Homo sapiens: one gene and its partner. The protein of the gene in region 1 interacts with the protein of each later gene in a pairwise test. Each region holds a gene or a part of one and is shown on either strand. Other genes may lie near its edges.

Region 1 (6,999 bases):
TAACCAAATTTATTTTGCCTTGGAGGGCAAATGAAATCCCTGGGCCTTAGATTCCTCATCTGTAATGCGATATTCTTAGTTATGCCCATGTTTTTTAAAGTGTAGGAACCTTGGCACTAGGATGGCATAACACTGAATCACACATTGAGAACTGTATTCCTTTCCGATCACTTTAAATCCTTCTGGTTGTTAAAAAAAAAAAAAAAAAAAAAACAGAAAAAAAGAGAGAGAAAAAACAAAAATTCAAAAATTTCCATTGATACTCTTGTCCTTAACCCTTCTCAACATTTGCCACTCTCCCTCCTTTTTTCAAAAATCATTTTTAATTTTTGTTTTGACCCTCAAAGAGAAATCAGTGACTTTGTTTTTACTGTGCTTGTTTTTAATTTATGGTGGGTGATACTGATTTCCCATTTAAGGCAGTAATAGAAAAAAATTAAAAGAAGGTTGATTTAAATGAAAATGTTTGCTACAATTACCATAATAAGTGGCCTCCAATGAGTATGGTATATTAATTATTCGGGAACTGTTATGTCATATAGATATGGCAAAAATCAGGACACCAGTAACTGTGGTTAAAGAAACACTAAATTAAGTGGTTTTAGTTTTTGTTCAACTCAAAACTTACAAGAGCATTCAGGTACGTCGTCAGGTGGTAAATGTCCACTCCAGTTTCTGTTCCCCAAATGTACATATATTTAGTGACATGGTATTTGGTGAATGAAGCTCATGTTTGGTGTATACAATCAACAGTAATGTGACAGGGGACTAACATATTCTGATACGTTTGGGAAAATTTTGGCTGCAGTTAACTATAATTTGCTAATTTTGCATTTACATTGGTTTTTTTTTTCTCCTGTTACTTAAAATATAACGAAATGGGGACAAGCACCTTTGCCTTGGTGTAATTAAAAATAAAATTATGTCAGGAACATCTGTTTTCAGAAGGGATTTCTATTTGTTTTATCACCAAAAGGTGGCGTCCTACCCCCATGCCCTTTATTTTAAAACCTTTCTTGCTTTAATTTAACAAAAAGAAACTTCCAGTTGATTACTGATAAAGAAATTAAAATCTGCCCCCCACGAATGTAACGTGACAGTGTTGAAAATGAACAATATGTTAAGCTGCAGTTAAGTTTCCCTCTAATGTAAACCAAATGGACATCGAGTTCTTTAATAAGGCAGCACAGCACATTAGACAGTATCATACAAAATTGAGTACAATATATCATGGGATTTACAACCAGGATTTCCTTTTGTCTGCAAAACTTGTTGCCAACCTGACTGTGGCCCCCACTTGCAAGTGAATGTAGAATTTAAGGCAGTTAAAATGCAGAATCAGATTAGCAGCAATCTAAAGATCTTTTTAGTATTGCGATGATAATAATTTTTAATAAACACACTGCTTAATCTGAAAAACAAGATCAGAGGATGAATTGTTCTTTACAGACTATGAATAGATCTGTTACATTTAAATAAGTCGTTATTCCCCTGAGTTATAATTCTACAGTCAGGCATATACCATAAACATGTTATATTTGGCATAAAGTACTTTAGAAATTAAAAACCATTTTTAATAGGTTGACCACTACAGAACCAGTAGACTGGCTACTTTGTAGATTTCCACTTAATTCCGTGTGAATTCAGCATATGGAATTTCCAGTGATGTCAAAGAGTTGTTGGCAGTATTAACTGAGTTGACATAAAGCTTTTAGTTCAGTGCCTAGATCATAGTATTTAATAAATGTTAGATGTTATTATTGACAGCTTAGACTGTGAGCTCCTCAAGGGCAGGAATTTTTATTTTTTCATCCCTCTGTGCCCACTCTGTGGTCTAGCACACAGTGGGTATGTCATTAATCCCTTTATGTCTTGACAAACAAGACGTCGAACCCTAGCCTCTAGGAAGCTAGGACATTCCATACAAACTAAAATGCATTTTATTGGTCTAGATTCTAGTCTAAAAGATTCAGTGAATAGTCTTATCTGGATAGCATGGAACTTTATGCAGCATGCATGCAATGTGAATTCTACCAGGCTGAAATTACCTTAGCAGCCTCCCTTTCTTTTATTCTGTAGCATCAGCGAATGGCTTTGTTATTTTTTTTTTTTAACTTGCGAAAGATACAATTTCAAAGCGATAGTCTTATGCCACCCTTGAAATTAAGATTTAAGTTCTTCTGTAAATTAATGTTTAACAATATTTGTAAAGGGGCATTACGCGAAAGAATTTAATAATAACCTTTTCAGGATATTATCTACAACTGTGCTGGTCTCAAGACCAAAGGGACAGTAAGCCTCTCCCCTCCCCGCAAGGGGAAGTACTTTGTAGGAATCCACAGGGGTGACTTTTAATATATTCTCATAAAGAATTGGCCTGGTGTACACCAGCCAGCCAGTAGCTGGAAATGCTGGTTTGGGAGTCTGGCCACTTCTGTGGTGGTGGGTCTGAAAAAATTTACTTCTGTTAACAACAACAACAACAACAACAACAAGACATAGAGGTCTTACAGCTTTCCAAGTCACGTTTTGGAAACACATACTCTGCTTCCTTCTCTATGCGTATTGATAAAAGTGAAAGAAATACTAGTGTCTTTTGTTTTATGTATGTATATTTCAAAACATTTAATTCAGGCTCTTAGTTTATTCCTTCGAATTTCTAAATTCAACCAAACTTCAAAAACCGCAAAAAGAAAAAAAAAAATCTCACCTTTTCAAAGAATTGGACAAAGCTTTTTGCACGTGACTGATCACTGGGAGAGCAGGTAATTTGTGTTAAACAACGGACTGACATGCTAGCCCCCAGGCGTTTTCCTAAGAGGAGTCGTGGCAAGAACACAGTTCCTGATGCAGCCACCTTCCCCCAAAGTGGACTCGATTGCACATTCCTGCAGTGGCTCTGACAAGGGGGCAGAAGCTCGTCCCACATTCACACTCTCCTGATTCCGAGAAACAGGGGAGAAAACCCCTCGCTGGCTGGCGGGGTTTCTGTTTCCTTGCAAACAGGGGTTTGTCCTTCTGCTGAACTTTCACCTCCCGAACTCGCCTTCTTTCATTGGACAAAGTGCAGAAAGAAAGAGGAGAGACCGAGGGAGGACGGGAGAGAGGGAGAAAGGGGGTTGAAAACACCACCTCCCACCCCGCTCTCCTTCAACTGTCACTGATGGCAAAACACTTTCACTTTTAACTGGAGGAAACTCACATTCTAGCCTGTCCTCTCCCCTCCCTTTCATATTTTTAGCTCAGAATCCAAGCAAATAGCCATCGCATTCCCATCTTCGTCCCTAGTTAACACTCTCCCTTCTCGTTTTTTCCGCTGTCTGAATGGGCCCCCCATTTCCCATCTCCTGAGGAATCTCCCCCTCCGCCCCCCTGCCCCTTATTTTCCAGGTCTTTCCTGCCAGATCCCTCTGTTGCCAGGGACTGCTCTGGCGTTCCCTTCCTCTCTCTGGTCCGCGGGGCTCTGCCTCCCTCTCCTCTTTCCAATCCTGCCTGGACGCCCCTCACTTCCCCCTCCCTGGATCCCTCCCCCCAACCCCCCCCCCCATTCTTTGGCAATTGCGATTTTTTTTTTCTGGGAGCCCGGTTGTTTACCCAGCAGGTGGATGTGACGTCAGGGACGCACAACAGCAAAAAATAACAACATCTCCCTCCGCGACGTGTTGGCCTCTCTCGCGCGCCTTATTTATTTATTTGTTCCGGGATGTCGGGGGGGAGGGGGGAGGGAGGAGGGGGGTGGGCGCCAGCGCCCCGGCGAACGGCAAAGAGGGAGCCGCTCCCGCTCGGGGGGCCGCTGGAGTGCCCAGCGGGGTGCGTGAAGCGGAGAGGGGACCCCTGCGGGAGGTAGAGGGTCGGGCCGGGGTGCGCCCCCGGGCCGGTGCTGCCCGCGCCTCTGCCGCCGCCGCCGCCGCCACCGGCGCTGGCTGGGCTCCGGGAAGCTAGTCCGGAGCGGAGGAATCTATTGTTATTTATTGTGTGGCGGTTGCACGCTGTACTCGCGGCGGCCCGGCCCTCGCCCGGGAGTGCGTGTGTGCGCGCGTGTGTGCGCGAGTGAGTGTGTGCGCGGGGTGCGCGCGCGGGCGGGAGTGGGCGCGCGCGGGGAAAGGCCCGAAAACACCTTAGTTTGCACCGAGAGACCATTTGCAGCGGGTGAGTTTGTATTTTTCCATTTCTGCTCCACTTTTTCCCAAGCCGCCTCCTGTCTTGTTTCCGCCACTTTAAACAACAACAACAACCAGCACAAAAAAAAAAAAAGAAAGAAAGAAAAAGAGAAAAAAAATGGAAAAAAAAAAACAACTACTTTCCACCTCCAGGCTCCACGTGCATCTCCCCCAGCCCTCCCCTCTCTTCCTCTCCCCCCCGGGTCGAGGCCCAGCTCTGGGATGGGTGGGGGCTGCGGGCCGGCGCGCGGGTGGAGGGAGCTCCGGCGGCGCCCGCACCCTTTGGGTTTATTTGCATAAGTCAAATGGGGGCGGGGGCGGTGGCGACTGTGAGGAGGCGAGATCGCCTGCCCGTAGGCCCCTTCACGCCTCTCTCTGCGCTCTCCACGATCGCCTAGGGGAGAGAAATCAATAAGCCCAGGCCGCCTGGCGCAACTTTCGATGTCCGGCGTTGGCGTCCGGTGGCCGCCCGGGCGCGGGGCCGGTGCGGGGTCCCGGGTCCTGGCCGCGGCGGGAGGGGGCGCGCGCCGGGCGCCTCCTAGGCCCAAAGTTTAGACTTGGAGCAAACTTTTCCCCTTCTTTCCCCGCGGGTGTGTGCCCCCTCGGTGCCCTTGAGCTGCCCCGCGGGCCCCAGCAAACTGACTGTGGTGCCTGGCCCTGGGCCCCGCACTGGGGAACTTCCCCGCTGCCACGCGCGCGTTACCCCGAGAGTCAGCGGCGAGGAAGCTCTCCCGCCACCCCCTCGGAGCCCGGAAAATTCAAACACGCACCTGCGCACCCCCAGCCAGACACGCACCCCTACGCGCGCTCGGCCTCCGCTTTCCCGAGACGAGTCCGCAACAGCCGTGGCCAGATCCACGGGTGGGTGCGGGAGCCGGATGCGCTGCGAGGAGTCGCCGCGCCCGGATCTCTCTCCCACCATCACACACATTTTCTGATTTTACCCCCCTCTGAAGCTTGGGGGACGGGGAGATTTCCCAAGCTCCGATTTGTCCTGCGTCGCGCGCGTGTCGCCTCGTCCCTCCGGCCCTGTCCTGGCGGCCGATGGCTCTCCGTCCCTCGCTTGCGCGCAGCCTTCCTCCCGAGCTCCCTGCGCTCTATTCCTGTCCCGCCGAGACGACTCCCTGGAGCCAGCGAGCCGAGGCGGCGTGCGCTTCGAGTGGGGACCACGGCGGTGGCGGCGGCGCCGGGAGCCGAGGAGTTTGCCAGTTGCCGCGGGGTCGCGGTCATTTGCTGCCTCCGCCTTCCCTCGCCCCCGCCTCCCGCCTCCCTCCTTTTCAGACAACGTCGCGCTCGGAAACTTAGATTCCTTCTTCTTTTTGGCCCTCGACGAGCCCCCCTCCCCACCTGTTGTGAGCTCCGCCTTGGTCCCGGGAGACTGGCAGTGACACACACGGGCTCTGGGGAGCTCCGCTCCCGGAAACAAAGTCGCATGCCCCCCTCCCATGTGTTTGCTTCGAAATCGCTGCCTGCAGCCCCCCATTCCCGCGCAGCTCCCGCCCCCTGTGAGAATAAGGACTAAATAAACAGTTGTAACTCCAAACCTTGCGCCCGTGATCGTATCCCCATCCCACCCCCTTCTCCCTATTCCTCCCCCCTCCTTTTTGTTGTTGCAACTTTGTGAGATCCTGGGGAAGGTGCTGAGACTTTGGCTCGGGCCGATTTCCCGGTCTCTGGATCCTTGCAGGGATTCCCTGAGCCGCATCCTCTCTTCCCTCCACGCGCACTCGCGGGTCCTCGGAGCCCGCTGCCCTCTCTGTCCTGGCCCCTCGGCCTACTCACCCGTCCCGTCCCCTTCAGTTCCCCCCAGCCTGCACGGGGAAGACTTGCTGAGGGTCGCCCCGGTTTCTTGTCGACTGCAGAACCCGAAAGTTTGTAAGAGGAAGAGAGCGCGCGGCGAGCGAGCGAGCGGGCCGGGGGCAGCGGCAGCGGCGCCGGGGACCATGGTGCTGCCGGCGCCTCCTCCGCGGGCGTGAAGGCGGCGCTCCTACTCCCTCCCCGGACTCCGCGGGTAAGTCGAGGCGGCCGCGGGCGCGGGGTCCAGGGACACCGGAGAGCCCCAGGCGGCACTAGGGGTTCTCCGTCCCCAAAGAGCCAGCCGGGGTGGCGCGAGCCTAGCGATAAGGCACCGGGAGCGAGGAATGTGCCCATCCTCAGGCCGGTAGGTGCTTCGAAATACTGGACTTCCTCCCCTCCACCCTTTTCCCCTCTTTCTTTCCTAAATCTGAAAATCTGGAGATCAAAGTTTAGCGTGGAGTGTAAAGTGCTCCGATAAAATATGGTGACATCCTCGCCCCCCTTCTCACCCCACTCCCCTCTTATAACTATTAATTATTTCCAAGTCATTGTATCCAAATACCCTTGCTGGGCTGATTACAAAGTGTATTGATTTAGTCTGGGCTCATCCTATGCTTTCGTCTTAATTCATTTTCTTTTTGCTCTACCAGAAGACCCAAAATGAAACTTATTTCTTCCTCTTCCCTACCTCCCCACCCCACAAGCCCTCATCTGTGAGGCTTGGGCAGAATAATGAAATTAATATAAACATTTCATTTGGTTGCATTTGACCTTATGCAGTCCACTTCTGAGGGGCTGGAATTGCGCTCATGTCTGCTCACAGGTATTTTCCAAGTTAGCATTTTCTTTTTTGTCACTGCTCTTTAAACAGGAATGCCGGAGGAGCATTCTGGATTCCCTTTGAAAGGCATCTGTACATTCAAACCGTCTACACTTCACCATTGGTTGTACGTAGACTTAAGGGTTTAGGGCTTGGACAATAGCTGAGTTGAGAAGACCTCAAGGATATTTAAAGGAATTTTTCTGCTACTGAAAATATATT
Region 2 (4,702 bases), on another chromosome or scaffold:
GGTAGAACTGAGAGGCTAATGTTAAACAATTCAGAAATATCCATTATTCAAAATGAGATACCAGCGAGGTGAAAATTATTCATAGTTCTTAGTAATTTCATGATCTGAAATTTATAAATCTTCTATACAAACGAAAGGATAAAGCACAATTCTAAAGCATAGAAACCCCCCATCCCCCACCCAAGGATAGTGTCCAGCCAGGGAAAACAACAATATTAAAGGTGCTTTAGACTGTTGGGTTTTCAATTGTGTTGAATCAATTACATATAAGAACAGTATCTTTTGACAGTATGGTGAAGCTAGATCTGTCTGAGTGAAATGCATTATATCAAGTCCTGACTGTCTTTCTGGGAATGTCCACAGCTAAAAATTAAACCTTTAGTTCTTAAAGTCAACTTCAATAAGAGGGATTATTTATATTAAAAACAAAATTAAATTTCCATACTTTTGTTCTTTTCATAATAAAACTAATTACACCCTCATAACAATAATTGTGAAAAGAAACACAGTATAATAAGTAAAGAACACATTTGCTGTTTTTATTGGTGCCTTGCATGGCAGTAATACTGAAAAAGGAGAATGCAAAAAAATAAAATAAAATAAACAAAAAACAAAAACGAAAAACAGGTTGGTGGCAACCCACATCTTTTTTTTAAGAGCACATAAACTCCTGTTTTATTTTTATTGTGGCATGAATGATAACATAAAACCAAAAACATGAAAATATACAACTTATATTACACTATGTGTTATGAACAAAATATAAATCTATAACTCTATGTTATATTTACATAATTACTTATTATTTTATTAAATTTCAAGTGAGATGGTAGGTTGCACATACTTTGTTTTAAGCTCCAGGCATTTGATTGTCTCTTTTCTATTTTTTTTCCATTTTTACTTGTAAAATCCAAAATATTAGAAGGACTAAGAGCTTTAGAGCCAGTGGAGCTATATAAATACTGTTTTAGTGAACCAGTGACGGAAACACTGGGGAGGACAGGAATCAATCAATCAGTAGGAAACTCAACACATCGTCTTCAACCTGGGAAGTTGATAGTTATAGGATACTTTAAAATTAAATACTGTAAAAGCCTGGCTAAACCAACAGCTATGCCCTACAAGACAAAGGGATACCTGAACCACTTTAAGTGGCCTTCATAGTTTTCCTTGCAGACCCCGTAAGTTTTATTTTATTATTAATTTGATAGACAAATACCTTATAAACCTGTTTGTAAATATACAGTTGTTTATTACAATTCAACAATTTACCCATTAGAATGAGTGAAAGTGTAATTATTTTTTATGTTTTAAATGTGATATAAGAGGTTTCTTCTGGGAACAGTCACAGCTTCTGGATTAAGAAAATATCTGAAGTTGGACCAAAAAATGGTTAATTTTCTTTAAGTGAATTAAGGTAAAATTCTACTCCGGAAATCAAATCTATAAAATAGCTTCACCACAGAAAACTTTTTTATATTTGTTCTTTATAAGAGGATTTGGTTCTAACGATGATTATGTTCTTTGGGAGGGATTTTATACATGGTTAACTCTTAACTGCAGATGCCAAATGAACTTCACAAATGGACTTCACTAATTTAGGTATAAATGTGCTGAAGAATAGTTTTATATTTTATCCAATTGTGGTAAGTTAATCACTAACTTATTATTAGTAACTATAAATGAGTAACTTTATTTTCTCCGGTAATGTTCTCTTAGATTCATATGAAAACAGGACTATTTTTAGAGAAACGGACTACAACAACTATAAAAACCAGAATTCTGGCAAGATTATTTCTCAGTGTTGGGGCAAGTGTGTGTGTGTGTGTGTGTGCGCGCGCGCGCGCGCGCATGTGAGAGAGAGAGAGAAAGGGAAAGAGATAAAGTGTGAACAGATAGGTAAGAAAGCAGACAGGAAGGAGACTGTTTATGTTTTAGTTTGATCTTTTGATCTTACTCTCATTTTCTTTATCTTTTTTGGTCATTATGGGGCACAGAAAAAGAATACAGGGTTTTAGGATCCTTTACCAAAATTATAAATCAACCAATGCCAAAAAGGCAATGTAGTAACACAGTAAGTTGCTATTCATAGCACCTTTTATCAAGTGACTTCAAAGCACTTTCAACATTAATATAACTATTTTTGCTTTTGTTTTCTTTTGGGGAAAACTAGGGCAAAGAAAATTTGATGTCCAGTGAATTAACCGTCAGAACAAGAGAACAGAATGCAGCGGTATGAACTTGCTTTTTGTTTCGGTTCATGCACAGTTTAGTCTCGGACATAAACCTAACTAAAATCAAATTTTGAATTTCAGCAGTTAAAAGTCACCATTAACAATTTTGTTTTCCCCTTCAAATAAAACAAAATATAACAAAAAAAAGACCAAACACCAAAGTGTTGTCAATTCATCGGTAAGTGTGTTAGAATTGATTTCAGCCATGAATGCCTTCAATGGCATCTACCTGGAGCTAAAACAAAGTATTCTTGTAGCCCAAACTCATGAAATGAAAACAAAGCATCTTTCATAACATGGTGTAAAGTAAGTATCCAGCAAACGTGAGAGGTGAACCCACATAAATCGGAAGGAATTTGTTAACAAAGACAGAGAACAAATTTTTTAAAAATCTGTTTTCACATTGTACATAAAAATGATATAAAAACAAGTGTCTATTTTTTCCTTATCCAGAGTGCTTAAAAACAAAACAAACAAAAACAAAAAAAAATTGGCTCTAGATGACTGTGGCAATTAAATAACTAAAATGAGTGATGAGAGCATAAGTTAATTAAGATTGAACACGACCCTCCTATTAATTCACTCCTTTGTTTTAAACATCAGAACTGATATTGTTGGGGCCAAAATTCTTAAAAAAGAGAAAACTTACGGAAAGAGAAGTAAAATTGTGGGTAAATGTGTGTGTGTGTGTGTATATGTGTGTATATATATGTATATATATATATACATATACATACATATATGAGTTGGAGATGGAAATTTGTTTTAAATATCTAACAGCTTATTGGCTGCACTTCCAAATCAGAGCAGAATAAAATAGAAAGGGAGAAATAAAATAAATTATACATAACTTACTAATCTGGGAACAGCTGACCATTATTATTATTATTACTATTATTATTATTATTTTATCATCATCATCATTACAACACTAGCAAAAAGAGGCAGTTCAAATGTAAATAAAGTCATCAAAAACAAACAAACAGAAAAACAAACAAAATGAAATCTCTGACATGCAGGATATGATCAGCTCCTCCAAGCAAAACCCCAGAGCAAGTCTTCTGAGAGAGAGAAAAATAAAAGGGATTCTTTTTTTATTTATATGTAAAAATCCAACTTTAGGGTGGTGTTTCGGGGGGTGAGATAGGAAAATGATGACTGGAGTGAAAACTATAGCACATCAAGCTACTAGTTGCAGTATTTACTATCTATCTGATACTTCAATACAAATAATGGCAATTGACTTGAAATGATTTTGCATTTATTTGTACAGGCCCTACAACTGCCTTGGCATTTGGCTGGCAAAATCTACATAAGCAGTCCCATCACATTCAGTTGTTGCTCTTTGCAAATACTCTGCTTGAACCAAAGTTGGACTTCAGTGGATTAATCTGACAGCAAGGGAAGAGCAGTGGCAAGGATCCCTGGGTGCAGCCAGGCTCCATTTTATTGGGCTGCAATGACTTTTAATTAAATCCTACTTTTTATGGCATGAACTACATATGGCCCACACTTCTGAAATGCTAAAGGCCTCCACCTCACTTCATGGAGGGGTGAAAAATACCTTATAAAATCATCAGTTTCATTTCCTGATCGGGAAAGGATGGAATGTTGAAGAAATAAGCTAATTCTATTTGTCTGAAAAAATGGCCAAATATATTCAATGAAAACAATGATTGTTTTGCTCAAAATATCAACAGGAAAAACAAAAATCACTAAGTAGCAAACGTTAATGGAACCAACTGACCAGGGAGAAAGGACATCTGGGAGCAGTTTGCTAGTAGCTTCCATGTTATACATGCACACCTCTATTACACAGGGCCACCTGATCCATCCAATAATAATCAGACATTTAAAAATATAATTTCTGAGCCCTATACTTGGTTAAGTTGTCATTTGAAGTGCAAAGTCAAGGTCAAGATTATTTCTAGACCAGTCACTTGGGAGGATGTGGGATTTCATCCCCAGATGTGGGTTTAACTCACAATGGTCCAACGTTATTCCTATTATTAGTACCATAATCACATACATACATACACACAAAAATCCAAGATCAGAAAATATTTTTCTCTAAATTTCTTATGTCTCTCTCTCTCTCTCTCTTTTCACCTGAGAACAGCACCTACAGTTTCCATTAAAAAAAAAAGTCAAATCTCACCAGCTGCTGGTATTTCAGGTTTTTCAAGGGATTGTCTAAGATTTAACACTGTCCTAACTTAAGAAGGAAAAGGAAAAAGTAAAGAGAAAAAATGAACTTGGTCAACACTTCAGTACAAATTTGGCACTTGCTCAAAGATGTAGTGTGGTGTGCAATAGATAAAGTCCTCTAAAGAAAATAATTGCTTATTTTGTGGTGGATAGCAAGGAAGTTAAAAACAGGCTCTTTTTCCCTCTTTCCCCTCATGCACAGACTTCCATCTTTAAAGTAGAGAGATGGAGAAGGTGGAGAGAAGTAAAGAGAAATTCAT

Evidence for each region. The genes of interacting proteins can lie anywhere in the genome.
Region 2: the proteins of FOXP1 (region 1) and SOX5 come close enough for resonance energy transfer, tested with the Homo sapiens proteins (one study listed by BioGRID).

The regions. Positions count from the first base shown.
Region 1 is NC_000003.12:71,580,721-71,587,719, reverse strand, and holds the start of FOXP1 (forkhead box protein P1), read left to right. Parts: upstream 1-3,991; 5' UTR 3,992-4,149; intron 4,150-6,022; 5' UTR 6,023-6,171; intron 6,172-6,999. UniProt on the Homo sapiens protein: Transcriptional repressor. Can act with CTBP1 to synergistically repress transcription but CTPBP1 is not essential. Plays an important role in the specification and differentiation of lung epithelium.
Region 2 is NC_000012.12:23,528,986-23,533,687, forward strand, and holds the end of SOX5 (transcription factor SOX-5), read right to left. Parts: 3' UTR 519-4,702; downstream 1-518.